Regions from separate parts of the Homo sapiens genome. Here region 1 is linked to region 2. The links come from fine-mapping of genetic effects on gene expression. A gene starts in region 2. The other region holds a variant in brackets. All regions are shown on one strand. Distances are from middle to middle. Region 1 has its middle 22 kb from the start of NEDD4. Region 2 holds the start of NEDD4 (NEDD4 E3 ubiquitin protein ligase).

Region 1 (9,286 bases), 23 kb before region 2:
CATTACTGGGTATCTATCTAAAAGAAAATAAATCATTCTACCAAAAGACATATGCATCTATATGTTCATCGCAGCACTATTCACAATAACAAAGACATGGGATCAACCTAGGTGCCCATCAGTGGTGGACGGGATAAAGAAAATGTGGTACATACACAACAGAAACATTACGGAGTCATAAAAAAAAATGAAATCATGTCCTTTGCAGCAGCATGGATGTAGCCATTATCCTAAGTGAATTAACGCAGGAACAGAAAGCCAAATACCGCGTTCTCACTTATAAGTGTGAGCCAAATATTGGGTACTCATGGACACACAGATGGCAACAATACAAACAGGACTACTTGGGGTGGGAGTGGACAATGGTTGAAAAACTAAATTATTTTTTAAAGAATGTTCATTTTTCATTTCACGGAATTCTAAAAATGTGCCAGGTATAATTAACAGCTGTTAATTAGATTCAACTGTGCTCCTTTTCCTTTCTTTTGATTACAGCGCCCCTCTTCGCAGTAAGGAGTCTGTTCATGCAGTTCAGGTGGGGCTAACACGCTTGCACCTGCCCTAGATGAGGGAATGGGTACAAGAAAGCCCAATCAGACTATTCTCTTAGATTAAATACATAGAGCTTGGGAGATAAAGGGTTTATCTTATGGGCTTGGGGGTAAACTAAGAATTACATAGACTTGGGACTACTGGTAGCTGTTGTGCTGCTGAGTAGAGAGAACCTCTTCAAGAACAAAGCCATGAAGAGACAACAGAGGGATGGAAAAAAGAGAGACCTGAAACTCTCAGATCTAGTCATTCCTGGAATCAGATTTACCTCCTTGGACTTTCCAGGTATATCCAGCAACATACAATTGATTCTTATTGTATTAGTCAGGGTTCTCCAGGGGGACAGAACTAATAGGATGGATGTAGATGTATACATGAAAGGGAGTTTCTTAAGGAGAATTGACTCACACGATCACAATGCGAAGTCCATGATAGGCTGTCTCCAAGCTGAGAAAGAAGGAAGCCAGTAGTGGCTCAGTCCGAGTCCAAAAGTCTCAAAAGTAGGGAAACTGACAGTGCAGCCGACAGAGCCCCCGGCAAAACGCTGGTGTAAGTCCAAGAGTCCCCGAAGAACCTGGAGTCTGATGTCCAACGGCAGGAAGCATCCAGCATGGGAAAAAGATGAAAGTTAGAAAACTCAGCAAGCCAGCTTATCCCACCTTCCTCTGCTTGCTTCGTTCTAGCCTCTCTGGCAGCCAATTGGATGGTGCCCACCCACATGGAGGGTGGGTCTTCCTCTCCCAGTCCGCTGACTCAAATGTTAATCTCCTCTGGCAACACCCTCACAGACACACCCAGAAACAATACTTTACCAGTTATGTAGGCATCCTTCAATCAAGTTGACCCCTAATATTAACCACCACACTCATTATTCATGGATTCTGTATTTGCAAATTTACTTACCTACTAAAGCGTATTTGTAACCCCCAGATTAATACTCTTGAAACTATAAGGGAGTTTTAAACCTTCCCCCTACTTTCTGAAGGTTTGATAATTTGAGTCTCTGGAATAAACTGACAGCATACAGATTAACAAGAGAAAAGGCATACAGTTTTATTATGTGCATGCACGTGGGAGCCTCACAAATTATAAGATTCAAAGAAGGGGTAGATGGTCAAAGTTTTTATAGCATCCTGAGCTATAGAAGGAAATAGGGGCTTGAGGCTTCTGTGGGGAGGTGGTGACAGGTTATGAGAGGGTGAGAGGAGGAAATTTATAGTGAACAAAGTTGTCTTGTTATACAGAGAAAATATCTCAAGTAGCAACCCTCAGAACAGTTGGGCTGGGGGCAGTGGCTCATGTCTGTAATCCCAGCATTTGGGGCTGAGGCAGCCAGATCGCTTGAGGTCAGAAGTTTGAGATCAGCTTGGGCAACATGGAAAAACCCCACATGCCTACAAAAAAAGAAAAAAAAAATAGCTGGGTGTGGAGGCACATGCCATGGTCCCAGCTACTCAAGAGGCTGAGGCAGGAGGACCCCTTCAGCGTGGGAGCTCAAGGCTGCAGTAAGCCACAATAGTGCCACTGCACTCCAGCCTGGGTGATAGGAATGAGACCCTATCTCAAAAAAAAAAAAAAAAAAATACAGGAAGAAGAAGAATAGGTGGCAACTTTTGACAAAGTCTATCTGGGCAAGGTACCAACCTTTAGTCTCCTCTCCTGTGATATAATTAATCTTCCCTAGCTAATGAGATTGCAGAGAGGGGACAAATGAGTCCCTTTTGGAGGATCCATTTTTAGGCAAGTAAGGGAAATTCAGAGAGAGCTCCCTCTTGCTCTTCAGGAGAGAAGGACAAGAGACAAGAGCACAGGAGAAAGTCAGTGAGACCTTGGTTCAACTTCAGTTCAAAGCACTCAGCATGCCACAGTGCCATACTATGGGGTATTGTTTTCTGAGCCCCAACAGTGCTTTCACAATCATTCACTGACATGTATGTACAGAGTAGTGAAAAATTTGAGTCACCTGATGTGCATGTTTCCAGCTGAGGTTCAACAAGACGTCTGCTGTCTTGCTTCACCTCTCACACTGTAAACAAATGTCCTTTTTGCAATCTATTTAGTGCCACGTTTTTCACATTTTGTGCTTTTCGTTGTTTTCACTGTTTAAAATGGCCCTGGAGCTTAGTGCTAAAGTGCTGTTTTGGTTAGCGTTCCTGAATACTAGGCTGAGATGTGCCTTACAGAGAAAATATATGGGTTAGATAAGCTTTGTTCAGGCATGAGTTAGCATGTTGGTAGTTCAGTGTTAATGAATCAACAATACGCATTAAATGAGATGTCTTTAAGCCAAAACACACATAAAACAAGGTTATGTATTGATCCATTGATGAGAATATTGTGACCGGAGGCTCCCTGGAACCTAACCTTTTAAGTCTTCTGGGAGTAATGGTTCAGTATTCACTAATGCAGTGTTTATGGCAACTTGATAGAACATAACTACTGCACGTAATGAAAACTGACTGTATTCTCCTTTTGCTTAAGTTAGTTTGAGTTGGAAGAAGAGGCACATAATGTAGTAAGGGGCTGAGGGAAGGCTTTATGAAAGAAATGACTTTTAAGTGAGTAGCATTTTACCAGGAAAGAGAGTGGGAGAAGAGAATTCCAGGCTAAGAAAATAGTCTGAACAAAGATCTTAGGGTGACAAGGAGCAAGGCATGTTTGATGATCCAAAAGAAAGCCAGTGCAGTTGGACCACAAAAATCAAGGGAATAATAATGTGAGAATTTAAAGAAGGTAGAAAAAATATATATATAGTGGATATTCTTGGTGCCTACCTGTAATCAATTTCCCACACCTTCCTTCTCATAGATCCCCAATTTTGTTCTGGTATCCATCCTTATCCAACCTTTGGGATTAGGGAAAGCTAACACCATCCTCAGCTCACAAAGTAAGGACTGGTTAAGGTAAACTAACCATGTAATCTCATCCCTGGCCAGCAAATGGTTTAGGAATGGGAATGTACCTCAGTGTTGGCCAATAAAATTTGAGCTACTAATAGCTTTTGGGAAAGTTCTTTATATTTGAGTGATAATAATGGAAAGTAGATCTCACTGTTCCATATTGAATGTAAGCAAAGAAACCTGTTGCTTAATTTGTGTCCTTGAGGGAAGCCAGCCTGAGAACAAAACCTACACGTGGAGAATGGACTCGCAAACACTGCAAGAAAATCAGGCTAGAACTTTGATTATGTTGAAACTGCCTTTGCAAAATTATGACAGTAAGAGAAATCTGACATAGTTGATTCCATCTTGCTTCTGACCTCCAAGCTATCCTCGGTCTTTCCTGGGTGTGGGCCAAGCTAACCATGGGGAGAATTTAGTTTATAGTTTAACCTTAAAGCAGGGATAATAACAGCCCTTCCCAAAACTAAACTGCATCTGTAAAACGAATAAAAAGCCACAAGCTTCGGATTATGAGAGGGTGCTGAACTCTGCTAAAATGTAGGCATAGTTTCTAATCCCTTACTGCTCAGGAGTCATGTGACCAGAGGTCACAAGATTTGTGACCTTCCCAATTGCTCCTATATAACATCACTATTACAGAACCTATAATTAGTTTGAGATGTTTTTCAGATGGACTCCACCTGAACTCATGACTCAATGAATCCTGTGGCCCCACCCAGAGGCAGACTCAGCCCATGAGGACTATTTTCCACACCCCTACGATTTCATCCCCAACCAATCAGCAGCACCTACTCCCTAAAAACTCCCAACCTCCAAATCTTCAGAGACTGATTTGAGCCCAGTTCTCCCTCATGGGCTTGCCTCATGTCAATTAAACTCTTTCTCTACTGCAGTGCTGCCATCTCAGTGGATTGATTTTGTCTGTGCAGTGGAGAGGAAGAACCTGTCCGGCAATGACTATATGGTACCTGAAGTCTGCATATATCAAGACATTTGGTTATATAAGCCACCTTCACTGTTTAAGGAGTGGAGTTGGTTTTCTGTTAATTGAGGTGGAAAGCCTCTTAACTAAAACAATAGGTGTCCAGGTTCAGTCCCCTAAGTGATACATCTAAGATGAATGCAACTGGATGGCGGATTGGGAGCTCTGGTGAGCAAGTTATTGAAGCCACCTGATATGGCTTGGCTGTGTCCCCACCCAAGTCTCAACTTGAATTGTATCTCCCAGAATTCCCATGTGTTGTGGGAGGGACCCAGGGGAAGGTAACTTAATCATGGGGGCTGGTCTTTCCCATGCTATTCTCATGATAGTGAATAAGTCTCATGAGATATGATGGGTTTATCAGGGGTTTCCGCTTTTGCTTTTTCATCATTTTTTCTCTTTTCACTGCCATGTAAGAAGTGCCTTTCACCTCCCACCATGATTCTGAGGCCTCCCCAGCCATTTGGAATTGTAAGTCCAATTAAACATCTTTTTCTTTCCAGTCTAGGGTATGTCTTATAAGCAGCATGAAAGTGGACTAATACAGTAAATTGGGACCAGTAGTGTGTGGCATTGCTGAAAAGACACCTAAAAATGTGGAAGCGACTTTGGAACTGGGTAACACAAAGAGGTTGGAACAGTTTGGAGGGCTCAGAAGAAGACAGGAAAATGTGGGAAAGTTTGGAACCTCCTAGAGACTTGTTGAATGGCTTTGAAAAAAAGGCTGATAGTGATATGAACAATAAGGTCCAGGCTGACGTGGTCTCAGATGGAGATGAGGAACTTGTTGGAACTGGAGCAAAGGTGACTCTTGTTATGTTTTAGCAGAGACTGGTGGCATTTTGCCCCTGCCCTAGAGATTTGTGGAACTTTGAAATTGAGAGAGATGATTTAGGGTACCTGGTGGAAGAAATTTCTAAGCAGCAAAGCATTCAAAACGTGACTTGGGTGCTGTTAAAAGCATTCTGTTTTAAAACAGAAACAGAGCATAGAAGTTCAGGAAATTTGCAGCCTGACAATGCAGAAAAGAAAAACCCATTTTTTTTT[TG/G]AGGAGAAATTCAAGCCAGCTGCAGAAATTTGCATAAGTAGCACAGAGCTTCATGTTAATCCCCAAGATCATGAGGAAAATGTCTCTCAGTTGATGTCAGAGACTTCACAGCAGCCCCTCCCATCACAGGCCCGGAGGCCCAGGAGGGAAAAATGGTTTAGTGGGCCAGACCCAGGGTCTCTGTGCTGTGTTGCAGCCTAGGGACTTGGTGCTCTGTGTCCCAGCTGCTCCAGACATTGCTGAAAGGGGCCAACACAGAGCTTGGTCTGTGGCTTCAGAGGGTGAAAGCCTCAAGCCTTAGCAGCTTCCACATGGTTTTGAGCGTGCGGGTTCACAGACGTCAAGAATTGAGGTTTGAGAACCTCTGCCTAGATTTCAGAAGATGTATGGAAATGCCTGGACGCCCAGGCAGAAGTTTGCTGCAGGGGTGGGGCTCTCATGGAGAACCTCTACTAGGGCAGTGCAGAAGGAAAATGTGGGGTTGGAGCCCCCACACAGAGTCCCTACTGGGGCACTGCCTAGTGGAGCTGTGAGAAGAGGGCCACCATCCTCCAGACCCCAGAATGGTAGATCCACTGACAGATTGCACTGTGCACCTGGAAAAGCTGCAGACACTCAATGCCAGCCTGTGAAAGCAGCCAGGAGGGAGGCTGTACCCTGAAAAGCTACAGGGGCAGAGCTGCCCAAGACCATGGGAGCCCACCTCTTGCATCAGCATGACCTCAATGTGAGACCTGGAGTCAAAGGAGATCATTTTGGAGCTTTAAAATTTGACTGCCCCACTGGATTTCAGACTTGCATGGGCCCTGTAATCCCTTTGTTTTGGCCAATTTCTTCCATTTGGAATGGCTGTATTTACCCAATACCTGTACCCCCATTGTATTCAGGAAGTAACTAGCTTGCTTTTGATTTTCCAGGCTCATAGGCGGAAAGGACTTACTTGCCTTGTCTCAGATGAGACTTTGGACTGTGGACTTTTGGGTTAATGCTGAAATAAGTTAAGTTTGGGGGACTGTTGGGAAGGCATGATTGGTTTTGAAATGTGAGGACATGAGATTTGGAGGGGCCAGGGGTGGAATGATATGGTTTGGCTGTGTCCCCACCCAAATCTCAACTTGAATTTTATTTCCCAGAATTCCCACATATTGTGGGAGGGACCCAGTGGGAGGAGGTAATTGAATCATGGGGGCTGGTCTTTCCAGTGCTATTCTCATGATAGTGAATAAGTCTCATGAGATCTAATGGGTTTATCAGGGTTTCCGCTTTTGCTTTTTCCTCATTTTTTGTCTTACTCCCACCATGTAAGAAGTGCCTTTCACCTCGTGCCATGATTCTGAGGCCTCCCCAGCCATGTGGAAGTGTAAGTCCAATTAAACCTCTTTTTCTTCCCAGTCTCAGGCATGTCTTTATCAGCAGCATGAAAACAGACTAATATACCACCCTCAGGGGCTTTACAAGAAATCTGGACAGAAATAATTATAATCAAGCGGTAATCAGTCTGCATGTTGACCCACTTCCTTGTTACTGAAAGTCATATCACACTAGATACTGGCCATCTGCACCCCCATTATACCTATAAATAGGATTCCTGGCCCTAGAATCATACAGCTTTTGTTTAAGATAGATATGATTTCTGACATTAGAGTCCTAACACTTTAAGAATTGCTTAAGCAGATCCTGAATTCCAGCAGAACAGCTGATGCCAAGCAGTTCAAGACCCTCATAGGGTAACTCAATCAGCATCAACATGAGAATATCATTTCTTCATCTTGTACCATGACTTCATCTTGTACTCTTCAACCAAGCAACAATCGTCACTCCTTGGCTCACTCCAAAACCCTTATAAACTCTAGCCCCAAACTCCTCAGGGAGTTTGAAGTTTCCTTCCATCTCCTCATATGGCAGCCCTACAATTAAAACTCTTTCTTTGCTGCAACCTGGTGTCTTGGCAAATTGGCTTACCATGCACATCAGGCAACAGACCTATTACAGTCATGTAACAACCAGACAATCTAGTTTGGTGTTACATGTTGTGTTTATTTCCCTTTGGTTATTCGTTATTGCCTAGCCTTTAGTAAAGTCTTTTTTTTTTTTTTTTGGAGACAGGGTCTTACCCTGTTGCCCAGGCTGGGGTATAGTGTTGCCATCACAGCTCACTGCAGCCTTGACCTCTGAGCTCAACCACTCCTCCCACCTCACCTGAGTAGCTGGGACTACAGATGCACACCACCACAGTCAGGTAATCTTAAAAAAATTATTTGTAGAGATGAGGTCTTACTATGTTGCCCAGGCTGGTCTCAAATTCCTGGGCTCAAGTGATCCTCCTGTCTTGGCCTCCCAAAATGCTGGGATTACAGGTTTGAACCACTGCACCTAACCCAGTAAAGACTTGTGTACACCATGAGCAATTGAAGTTTTCCTTGCCCATGAGATTATACTGAGAGTGACTTTAATGATTATTCCAGGCTCTAGAGAAATTCAAAGCAATCCCTCAGATTTCTTTGAACTCTACATGTGCTCATGTTTATATGTTCATTACTACTAGCTCTGGTTCAGTTTATGGGTCATCTCACTCTCTAGTGTATATTGAACTCTATGCTGTCTGTTGAACATCATACCAACCTTTACATGAAACATACCCTTCTATTCAAGATCCACACATACATGAAAGAGATATTTATGTTTAATAAATGTGATCAAATATTTTGGGGACAGATAAGGGACTTATATTGTAAAAATGCCAAGAAATTTAATGTTAAACACCCTTATTCTTTTTTTTTTTTTTTTTTTTGAGATGGAGTCTCACTCTGTCACCCAGGCTGGAGTGCAGTGGCGCAGTCTCACCTCACTGCAAGCTCCGCCTCCCGGGTTCACACCATTCTCCTTCCTGCCTCAGCCTCACGAGTAGCTGGGACTACAGGCGCCCGCCACCATGCCCAGCAAATTTTCTGTATTTTTAGTAGAGACGGGGTTTCACCGTGTTAGCCAGGATGGTCTCGATCTCCTAACCTCATGATCCGCCCGCCTCGGCCTCCCAAAGTGCTGAGATTACAGGCTTGAGCCACCGCGCCCGGCCTATTTCAAACAAATAAACAAAACCCACTACCTATCCAGTGTATGATAAGAAAACAAAAAACAACTTGGCATAGCCTATTGGGAATACTTAGAGAATCACAGAATTTTAGAATAAGAGGGCATTCCCTCACCATATGTTTTAGGTGATGCCAAAGGATATAAAAGTTTTTATTGCAGAATAGATACAAAAGTATTGACTGCAAATGTAATTTTTTTCTCTGTGTTAAACATTGAGCTTTTTTGATCAATTTTGTGTATAGAAATGTCTTCCCTATTATGTGAAAAAGTCACATGAAACAATGTAAACTCTATACAACCCAATTGACATCCATAGGGGAATAGCTTTAATAAATTGTGCTATATTGATATTGTATTTTTTCTTAAAGCTGCTGAAATGTATTAATTAGATGAGTATGCAACACAGCATAACAAGACAAAGTGTGGAAGGGAAAAAGCAAGTTGTAGAACAATGTATATACTGTTTACTGTAGTGAATTGTGCACATCAAACTTAAAACAACGGCTACTTCTGGCACAGGGGAGGGTACTAGGATTTGGGGAATTCAAATAAAAAATGACTTTAGCCTTATTTATAATATATTAATTTTTAAAAGAATAGTGCTAGCCGGGCACAGTGGTTCACGCCTGTAATCCAAGCACTTTGGGAGGCTGAGGCGGGCGGATCACGAGGTCAAGAGATCAAAACCATCCTGGCCAACATGGTGAA
Region 2 (11,020 bases):
TGGAACAGTTCCTCCAACTTTCTTGACTTCTATGTCCTTGACACTTTTGAAGATTACAGGGCAGATATTTTGTAGTACGTTCCTTAAATTGGATTTGTTTTCTCATGATTAGATCCAAGTTATGGAGGAAAAGCAATGGGTTGCAAGATTTTGGTTTATCAAATGTTCACTTTGATCATTTGATTAAGGTGGTATATTTCAGCCTTTTAATCTATGTAACTAAGTACTTTCTGGAAATATATGTTGAACCCTGTAAAAATCTCATTTTTCATTGAACTTTGAATGTACTCATTTATTATAATTTATATCTGTAATGAACACATGGTACCAGAATTATTCATTGGATTATAATCTGTTGCTATCATAATTTATTTTAGTGCTCAAGTTAGGCCATCTTTGGCCAGTGGGAGCTTTTTTCAGGTTGGTTCCTGTGTCCTTTTATTCTGTCTCCATCATTACTTTCATTATTTTCTGGGATAACAAGATGTTTCAGGCTCAACTTTTATTTGCCTTGTCCTAGTCCTGGAATCAGCCATTTTTCCAAGGAGCCCTGGTTTCTTTTAGTAAAAAGTTAAAATATGGATGCAAGATATGCTCATTGCTTTTGGGGTGTCATTGTTCCCAGGCCCTCTTAGAATACAAATGTAGAAAATATTTGTGTGTGTGTGTGTGTGTGTGTGTGTGTGTGTGTGTATGCAGCAGAGGTTTACATCTACATTTATTTATATACTATATATATATGTTAAAAACTTTTGAGTTCATATCAACACCACCAATTTCATTATAACAACACAAGACTCATTCAAGTTTTCTCTTTCCATTCTTGTAACTTCTTCAACAGTGACTAATGTGGTTCTCATTATCATTCATATATTCACTTATTGGATCACTTGTCTCTACAAGTAACTAATTTCCCATTTCTGCCATCACCAGTCCACCAAGCAAACCCTTCCTTGAACACACCTGGGTCCCACTGCCTTGCACCTGGCCGTCTTTCTCACTACCTCCCACCCCTTGTGGGGTGAGGAGGGCATTTTAAAAGATGACCATGATACCTGAACTCTCTTCTTTACTCCTTCCTCTGCCTTGTAACCTGGAACATAGACGTAATGATTGAAGCTTGAGCCACTCTCTGGACTATGAGGATAAGGGTCACACCTACAAACATCAGAGCAGTGAGCTGTGAAGTGCCTGAATTTCTGACCCTTTGGCAGAGCAAACTAGCCATATTAACCCTGCCCTGCCCACTGTCTAGACTTTTACATGACAGCCATATAACATGAATCTTTAAATCTTATTAGTTTAGGTAACAGCCAAATGTAATTCTACTTGATAAAGATGTCCACAGCTAGAGGCCAGCGGGAACACAGATACATCTACTAATTCCAGGAGGGAGTGATGAGAACCTTTATCACCAAGATGAGGGAGCACAACAGCCTGTTAGAAGTCAGAATCCAGCTTAGCAAAAAGAGGGTCAGGCAAGACCAATGAATTGATTGGGACTATGTATTCTACTACTGGAGGCAGAAACTTAGTTCATTTCAGAAAATCAAATAAACATTTCTTGCACTACTGAGCTCTGGATCTGAGATGGGCTCTATGAAGAAAGTAGCTGAAACTATGGTAATGGCAATGGCAATGGATGAGGTCCAGGGAGTTTCCAGTGGAAGAAAAAATGAACCTTAAAAATCTCAAACATTAACTATTAGAAAGGAAGCAGCCAGGGGATATTAAGAGTAAGAGAGAATTAAAGGAGAACTTCTGAACAAGACTTTTTTATATCCCTTAGGGAATTAATTACCAACATTAAAGTGCATTTCGTATCATTACCTTTCATATTGTTACATTCCACATCCAATTTTGATCCCAGGGGGTGATATTTTAAAAACTAGAAACAATTTCTGCATCACAGTGAAATCTATAGGCAGAGTTAAAGAGGTTTACGTATACAGACTACTAGAAAGTCTAGACCAGGTTTACTGGTTTTCATTCATTTCTTGCTTCTTAATCAGTTTGGAGGCTCATGTAAAGGCAGATTTGAAGGGAGAAAAGACTCAAGAACAAGAGATAGAAGGGGTGATGCTATTGGAGGTTGCTAGAATTGCCTGGATTTTGGCTTGGGATGATCCCTAGCACAGGTATGAGGCACAGAATCAATTGTTATGCACCATGTCACATTCTTCACACGTGCCTCACATGGTTATACACACACTCAAACCAAATCAACATGAACCTAATTGAAGGCAGCCTAGGTAGACAAAACGCCTTCATGAGAGTTCTGCGCAGTTGAGTGATATGTAGAGGAGTTCTTCATTCTAAACAGCTTTCTCAGTGGTGGTTGGTTATTGGACCACCAGCTGATATCACCATCCCGATTTGAGCTTCCTTTAATTTCAGGTGCCCCTCCTAGCTGTTGACCGGGATACAATAATTACTCTAGTTCATCTTGTATTGGTAGCTGTTTAATTCTTCATGATTTCATATTCGGAAAGACAGAATAAGAAATCATGAGTCAAATCAGTGGTCTTTAGAAGTATCATCACTAATACCTATTGGATACATCAAATGGCCAATTTGCTTTACTTTATAATCCCTTGGGGATTTACTGATTTTTTTTTTTTTAATTACCAGTTTTAGGCTGTGTATACTTCTCATATATTCATTAAATTTTAGTAGCAGTAACGGAAGCTGTTTTTACACGTTTGTAATTGTGCCCTGAAATGACACTGAATTAACTTAAATTCAAATGACTTAACTAACTTAAAATTAAACATAAAAATGTGTATCATGAGAGATGAGGGAAATATTCGCAAAATAGAAGGGCACACAATATTTTCAGATTATTTTATTCTTAACCCACAAATCCCACAGATATGTGACAACTTAAAAAACAAATTAATGCTCTCATGGCTTTTTCGATTTAGGTAAGCCAACAATTCCTGACCATTCTGTAATTTTGTAGTCATGTTTGATTAAGTGCCATCTCTTTCCCCCTAATACGGATAAAATCTGAATTGTGTATTAACAGAATTTTGATACATATTATATGAATGAAATGGATCCTACCAATCATAAAGTACGACAATTGAGGTGGAGTCTTGTTCTGTCGCCCAGGCTGGAGTGCAACGGCGCAATCTTGGCTCACTGTAACCTCCTCCTCCCAAGCTCAAGCGATTCCCTTGCCTCAGCCACCCAAGCAGCTGGGACTCCAGGCGCCCGCCACCACGCCCAGCTAATTTTTGTGTTTTTAGTAGAGACAGGGTTTTACTATGTTGGCCAGGTTGGGCTCGAACTCCTGACCTAAGGTGATTCACCGCCTTAGGTTTCCCAAAGTGCTGGGATTACAGGCGTGAGCCACCGCGCCCGGCCAAGTACGAGAAAAATCTTACGTAACAAACCAGTAATATGGGCTATAGCCTTGTTCCCACGTAGCATCTTAAACTGTTAAAAATAAATCAGAGTTATTCTGAAATCATTGAGGAAAATAAAAATTAGATTTTGAGATTGCAGAATTCTGCAAATTTCTGCAAATGTATAAAAACAACATGATATAAATTGTGGCCTGGGTGTTCATAATTCTCCCCAGACTCTTTTATGGATGCCTTATTTGGTGGAGGTCTTCCTGTAATTATGGAATTATAAAGCCCATCAGACAGGAATATTAAAAAGCATGATTATTCCATAACCTTATTCCACAGGAGGAGTTATTCCACAGGAGGAGTTATTCTACAGGAGGTCCTAGTTCACTTTATTTTTCCCTCTTCGTCACTGCCTTCTGGTGGTGCTGCGGATCAACGCCCAGCTAAAGCAGGTTTAGAGGGTCAGCCTGGAGATTGGATTGTTACTGGTGGGATTTAAAGATGGACAGACCATAGGACAACAAATAGCTTAGGAACTGGCACTGTTTACAAATCCTAGGGAGAGAATTTCAGATCCCGAGTCCAAGACTGCTGCGATCCCTCCAGGCCTCCCCATTTGCTGCCACGCTCAGGCTTTCCCTGGCGGTCCCCAGGTCCAGCTTCTTATGGGAATGACACCCTTAACCGACAAGAAAGCGCTATGATTTTCCGTTTGGGATTTAAGCGGGGATTAAGCTCACGGATTCCCAGGCGTCTAGTCAGAGGCCGAACTCTGGGTCGGATCTCAGCGAGACTTGTTGCTGAGGAACACTGCAGCTTGGCTTCCCGGCGCTTCCCGGCGCTCCCTGGCTCCCCGGCGGGCCCGTCAACCACCCACCTCCCGGGAAGGGACCGAGGGCGCGCCCCGCCACGCGCGCTCCCCACGCCATGGTCCCCGCCGCGCGCGCTCATCCCACCCGAGCCCCGCCGCACGCCCTCCCCACTCCCCGAGCCCCGCCACGCGCGCCCCCGCCCAGCCCCAGGAGCGCGCGCCGCCGGCCTTTTCCCGCCGCGCTGCCGGGTGCCGCTAGTGCCCGCTCGCCGCGGGAGGCGCTGCTGTCGCTGAGGGAGCGCCTCCTCCTCTTCCTCCAACTCTTCCCCGCCTCCTCCCGCTTCTCCTCCTCCTCCTCCACAGTTGCCTGCCCTGGGCGGGGGCGAGCGCGTCCGGTTTGCTGGAAGCGTTCGGAAATGGCAACTTGCGCGGTGGAGGTGTTCGGGCTCCTGGAGGACGAGGTGCGGGGACCGCGGGGCTGCGGGGCGGGCTTCCCTTCGGGTTATTCAGCAGCCGGACCCGGGGAGGTAGCGGCGGCGGCCACGACCGGAGGCTCTGCTGTCAGCCCCTCCTCCCTCGGCGCGAGCCTGGGGAGCGCGCGAGGCGCCGCGGGGACTGTGGGGGCGGCTCGGCGCGCGGGCGCTGGGGGCTCGCTGGAGGGAGCAAGCTTGTCGGGTCCACACCCGCCCCTTCCCGGAGCGGCCGCCGCCTTACTTGTCAGTTTCCTTCAGGAAGTGTTGAGGAGGGGGCTAGGCGGTCGGCGGGGGACCCACATCACCGCGCCAGCCCCTTCCTGCCACCCCCGCCGGGTGTGCGGAGCTCCCAGGCGTTGGGAGACGGTCGCAGCATCCCCGCTGTTGATTTGCTTGCTCTGGCGGAGGCCGGGCCGACTTAACTTTACGGACTTCGGTCTGGAGAGTTCCAAGTGAATTGTCATTCGCTGGTTTGTTTTTTTCTTCTTTATCTGAAATCCTTTTTAATCCCCTAACTAGAGACAGGGATGGGAGAGCAGGAACATAAATTTTCCTCCTCCTCTTTAGCAACAAGTGTCTAGTGTGAGAAGTTCATGCTTTATTTCACCGGTCGTCGTTGATGTTAAAAAGTGAAGCCAAAAAAGTATAAATACTTTATAAAGAAGTTACCACATCTGTTCCCTTTGAAAACTAGATTAAGCTCTGGGATTTGAAGAAGGCAAAGCTGTTTCTTTTCAGCTAAATAACTAATGCTGATTATGCCTATGCTTATTAAAAATATTGTACGACCATTTGGAAAGGTTGTTCCGTCGTAAATGATATGTGGCTTCTGTGTGTTCTTGGAGATTGTCTCAAAAATGCAAATGGGTGGGAGATGAAAAGGCTGCATGTAGTCTAACAGTGACTGGTTCCGAGTGAAAAAAATCAAGTTTTTTGCTTTCTTGTTGGCTGACTAAGCTGCCACATGTACCTTTTATCAAGATGAGACCCAGTTAACTGAAAATCCATCAACCTAATTTATACTGCTTGCTTAAGTATTGTAATATTTAAGTTGTATAGTTCCTTCTCTTAGTACCTTGGTGTCGTCAAACATTTTACACTTCTCTTGAGAGTTCTTTGTTTATAAAGGGTGGGCAATTTGTTAATGCAGTTATTTCAGGATATTTTGAGAATGCTTACGTGATGCGATTAGAATTTAATTTCCTAGCTATTGCTGCCAGAAGAGAAATAAAGTGATGATGGACAAATGGTGGCGGCTCATAGTCCCTCAGAAACAATAGTCAATGTGTTACAGCTAAAGATATCATTCTAGCTAATGGCACCTTTATTCTGTAGACGAGATCAGAAGATAATACAGCACTTCACCTGTGGTCGCTTTCTTATCAGTCAGATTTCCCTGCTTGCTACGTAGACTGCCCAGTGCAGTTGACTTCAAGGTGGTGTCCAACCCAATCAGGCTGACCTTGGACTTTCTTTCCCTGCTATATTCACAGGTAGGCCCTGCTAATTGCAGATTTCTCATCTCACCGCCTTCCAGCAGAGCCAGTTGATCTTAAAGAAAATAGTGCCAAAGGTATCATTCACCATCTGTTTTCTCCCTCTTGGTACATGATCAGTGTTTTTAATTATCTACTTTAGTAATTTCTCTGTTTTCAATCATCACCCCTCTGCCCAGCTGAAATAAAACTAATTGTGGCAGTTAATGGGTGGTCGGTAAGGAACTGGGGCCAAAGGCCAGAAACTCCACCCTTTGAAATGTGGATTTCCTGAACTTGCTGAAGGATTTGTACTTCTAGGAAGTTTCATGGACTGTGGCCTATCCCATTCACATTCTGGGAGTTCTGGCTGTCAGTTCCATGACTCTAATTTGCTTCTGTCCCCGCTCTATTTTGTCCACATTGAGGAAGGGAGTGAGATAGGAAGATAAGAGACATGATGATGAAGAGTCTTCCACTTCTTCCATTGTAATTGGATTATTCATTCAACAGACATTCATTTACTGTTTGCTCTGTACCATGCATTGTGCTAGGCACCAGGGATAGAGAGGGAAAAAAGACAGTCTCAGCCTCGGACTGAGGGAAAGATAAAAGTCACTTTTTTTCTTGTGGAGGTTGCCCTCTCCACTATCATTTGCCATTTATTTTCTGGTCTATCACAAAAGTAAAAGAAGGATTGAAACCACACTCCCCCATCCTCCCCACCCCCAAACACCCCTTTTGTTAAAGGAAGAAAGCATTGCAGCTATGTCACTTCTAAAACTCACAGACTAGTCTGGAAATAGGCAGCCCTCTGCTGTTGATTAAAAGTAAAGTGCTTTTTCATTACAACAAAAGGAGAGGATTCTTATTTTAAATTTGAAACTAAAACAGGGAGAAAAATAATTTGAAATGGGATAGAAGATAGTGAAAGAATTGTAATTTAATCAGTATATAGTGAATAGTCGCTGAGTCAGTGTCTGAGCATATTAGCACTGAAGTATGCTAAAATGTAGATCATAATACCTTTCTCTCACTTTTCAGTGAGTTTTGGCTCTTCTTCCACATATAAGTGACTTATAGTAAGAGATCACCCTGGCTGCATGTGCAGGATTTTACCTTTAAAGTGTTAACAAACAAAGGAGGAAGTGTAGTATAATTTATACCAGATTTGCTCTGGTCACTTGAGATTCACAGTAGAGAATAACATGCACTGATCTTTATTGGAGAGCAGTGTGGTGGATGCGGGGACTGGAATTGAGCATCACTTCCCACCTCCTTCCCATGCACCTCCCTGTGATATGGAGGTGGGAAAACTAAACACTGTTTCCCACACTCCATTGAAATTAATGGACTGGATCCAAAGTAGGCTCCCCAGTTAAGTGCACTTACTTGAGATTTGCAGAGTGGAAATGAGGTGGAGCATATTGTTTTGTTTCTTTGGCTTTTTCTGCTGATAAGCACAGTCATGTAAACATCTAAATTTTCTGCGAAAGTATTCCAGTATCTGGTAACTTGCTTTGTACATATTGATAGGAAGTCACCGAAGTAGTGGTGGTAGTGGCTTCCAGACGTCAAGATTGATTATATTCTTGAAGTCATCAGTTCTGGTGATGACTCCTGATCATCTACCTTTCTGACTGGGAGAGGTAGTAGCTTCCTGGATGGGTCAGTTCTGCCATGTTTCTGATCTTCTAGAACTGCAGTCCCCAACTGTTTTGGCACCAGGGACCGGTTTCATGGAAGATAGTTTTTCCATGGACCGGGGATGCGGTCCAGTGGTTTCAGGATGATTCAAGCACATTACATGTATGGTGCACTCTACTTCTATTATGATTACATTGTGATATGTAATGAAGTAATTATACAGCTCACCGTAATGTAGAATTAGTGGGAGCCCTGAGCTTGTTTTCCTGCAACTAGATGGTCCCAAGTGTGGGTGACGGTAATGGGAGACAGGGAGACAGTGACAAATCATCAGGCATTAGATTCTTATAAGGGGTACACAACCTAGATCGCTTGCATGGACAGTTCACAATAGGGTTCATGCTCTTATGAGAATCTAATGCCGCTGCTGATCTGACAGGCAGCAGAGCTCCGGAGGTAATGTGATCGGTGAGGAGTGGCTGTAAATACAGATGAAGCTTTGCTCACTGGCCTGCCACTCACCTCCTGCTGTGTGGCTGGTTCCTAAGGTTGGGGACCCCTGCTCTAGAAGTCCAGCCTAGCACCTACTCTTCCAGCTCTTCCAAAAATTTTGTAAGCATCTAATCCCCTGTATTAGCTTCTTTCTTCTTAAAGCATCTAGAATGATTTCTGTTTCCTATAAGAAAGGCTGACTGAAGCAAGGAAAAGAAGGAAGGAAATAAAGAGGAAAGAGTTCAGAGTCTCCGCTATCGGTATGGAGAGTGCAGTTTGCACATACAGAATAATAGATGCCCCTGGTGGCAGCAGCCACAACAGTGCATAAGTAGCAGGGTAAGAAGGGCATATTCTGATACTTCTGGACCCACTAAGGCTGAGCAGAAACTGACCCTTACTCAGTCTGGGAACAAACTTCCCAAACCTTTATGTACTACACACAAAGGAGGAGAAGCATAGGTTAAGCAGCAGCTGTATTAGTAATTTCTCCCAATCTTTCATGTATTGTTTTTGCCATTAGTGCTTTTTTGCAACTCTTTAATTCCAGGATCATTGTAAAGTATTTTTCATGGAGCAGGGACTAAAGAAGTGAATAAATATAGTGTATTTTTAAAATAATTTATTTTTAAATTATGTATTTACTTTTGAGACGGAGTCTTGCTCTGTCACACAGGCTGGAGTGCAATGGCGTGATCTCAGCTCACTGCACCCTCTGCCTACCAGGTTCCAGCGATTTTCCTGCATCACCCTCCAGGGTAGCTGGGATTATAGGCACGCACCACCACGCCCAGCTAATTTTTGTATTTTTGGTAGAGATGGGGTTTTACCATGTTGGCCAGGCTGGTCTCGAACTCCTGACCTCAGATGATCCGCCTGCCTCGGCCTTCCAAAGTGCTGGGATTATAGGCGTGAGGCACCGCGCCCGTCCTATTTTAAAATTATTTTAAACCATCAGAAAAGTTGAAAGTACAACACAAAGAGCTCCAGTATTCTTCTCATACAGATTCTGCAACTGTTAACCTTTTCACTGCAATTGTTCCATCACCTTTTTTTGCCATTTTCATTAATCTTTTTCTGAACCACTTGAGAGCAAGCTGCAGACACAATGCCCCATCATCTTTAAATACTCTAGTGTGTATTTTTCTAAAACAAGAATACTTTCCTGCATAACAACCATACCCCCTTCCAAGCTAGGAAATGGACACTGATACAACAATGCCATTCAATCCACAGATACCATCCAAATTTTGATAAATGTTACTAATAATTTCTCTTTTTCCTTTTCTGGTCTAAGAACCTATCTGGGAACATATATTGCTTTTACGTGGCATGTCTTTGCAGTCTCTTCTAATCTGTAACATTTCCTCAGTTTTTCTTTTTTTTTTTTTTTTTTTAATTTTTTTTTTTATTATACTCTAAGTTTTAGTGTACATGTGCACATTGCGCAGGTTAGTTACATATGTATACATGTGCCATGCTGGTGTGCTGCACCCACTAACGTGTCATCTAGCATTAGGTATATCTCCCAATGCTATCCCTCCCCCCTCCCCCGACCCCACCACAGTCCCCAGAGTGTGATATTCCCCTTCCTGTGTCCAAGTGATCTCATTGTTCAATTCCCACCTATGAGTGAGAATATGCGGTGTTTGGTTTTTTGTTCTTGCGATAGTTTACTGAGAATGATGGTTTCCAATTTCATCCATGTCCCTACAAAGGACATGAACTCATCATTTTTTATGGCTGCATAGTATTCCATGGTGTATATGTGCCACATTTTCTTAATCCAGTCTATCATTGTTGGACATTTGGGTTGGTTCCAAGTCTTTGCTATTGTGAATAGTGCCGCAATAAACATACGTGTGCAATGACTTTCTTCACAGAATTGGAAAAAACTACTTTAAAGTTCATATGGAACCAAAAAAGAGCCCGCATCGCCAAGTCAATCCTAAGCCAAAAGAACAAAGCTGGAGGCATCACACTACCTGACTTCAAACTATACTACAAGGCTACAGTAACCAAAACAGCATGGTACTGGTACCAAAACAGAGATATAGATCAATGGAACAGAACAGAGCCCTCAGAAATAATGCCACATATCTACAACTATCTGATCTTTGACAAACCTGAGAAAAACAAGCAATGGGGAAAGGATTCCCTATTTAATAAATGGTGCTGGGAAAACTGGCTAGCCATATGTAGAAAGCTGAAACTGGATCCCTTCCTTACACCTTATACAAAAATCAATTCAAGATGGATTAAAGATTTAAACGTTAGACCTAAAACCATAAAAACCCTAGAAGAAAACCTAGGCATTACCATTCAGGACATAGGCGTGGGCAAGGACTTCATGTCCAAAACACCAAAAGCAATGGCAACAAAAGCCAAAATTGACAAATGGGATCTAATTAAACTAAAGAGCTTCTGCACAGCAAAAGAAACTACCATCAGAGTGAACAGGCAACCTACAACATGGGAGAAAATTTTCGCAACCTACTCATCTGACAAAGGGCTAATATCCAGAATCTACAATGAACTCAAACAAATTTACAAGAAAAAAACAAACAACCCCATCAAAAAGTGGGCGAAGGACATGAACAGACACTTCTCAAAAGAAGACATTTATGCAGCCAAAAAACACATGAAGAAATGCTCATCATCACTGGCCATCAGAGAAATGCAAATCAAAACCACTATGAGATATCATCTCACACCAGTTAGAATGGCAATCATTAAAAAGTCAGGAAACAACAGGTGCTGGAG

Evidence for each region.
Region 1: its variant is fine-mapped to the expression of NEDD4 in subcutaneous fat (FUSION, PIP 0.91).

Annotation. Positions count from the first base shown.
Region 1 is chr15:56,011,243-56,020,528 of GRCh38, reverse strand. No RefSeq gene overlaps it. Among named protein-coding and RNA genes, the nearest start is that of NEDD4, 22 kb to the right of the region's middle. The variant TG/G (reference allele first, on the strand shown) is at 5,485.
Region 2 is chr15:55,987,122-55,998,141 of GRCh38, reverse strand. NEDD4 (NEDD4 E3 ubiquitin protein ligase) reads left to right here and starts at 4,530. Exons shown (of 29, transcript NM_006154.4): 1 at 4,530-4,631. The coding sequence starts at 4,587. RefSeq lists silencers at 3,324-3,521, 4,308-4,407, 4,648-4,997 and an enhancer at 4,500-5,282.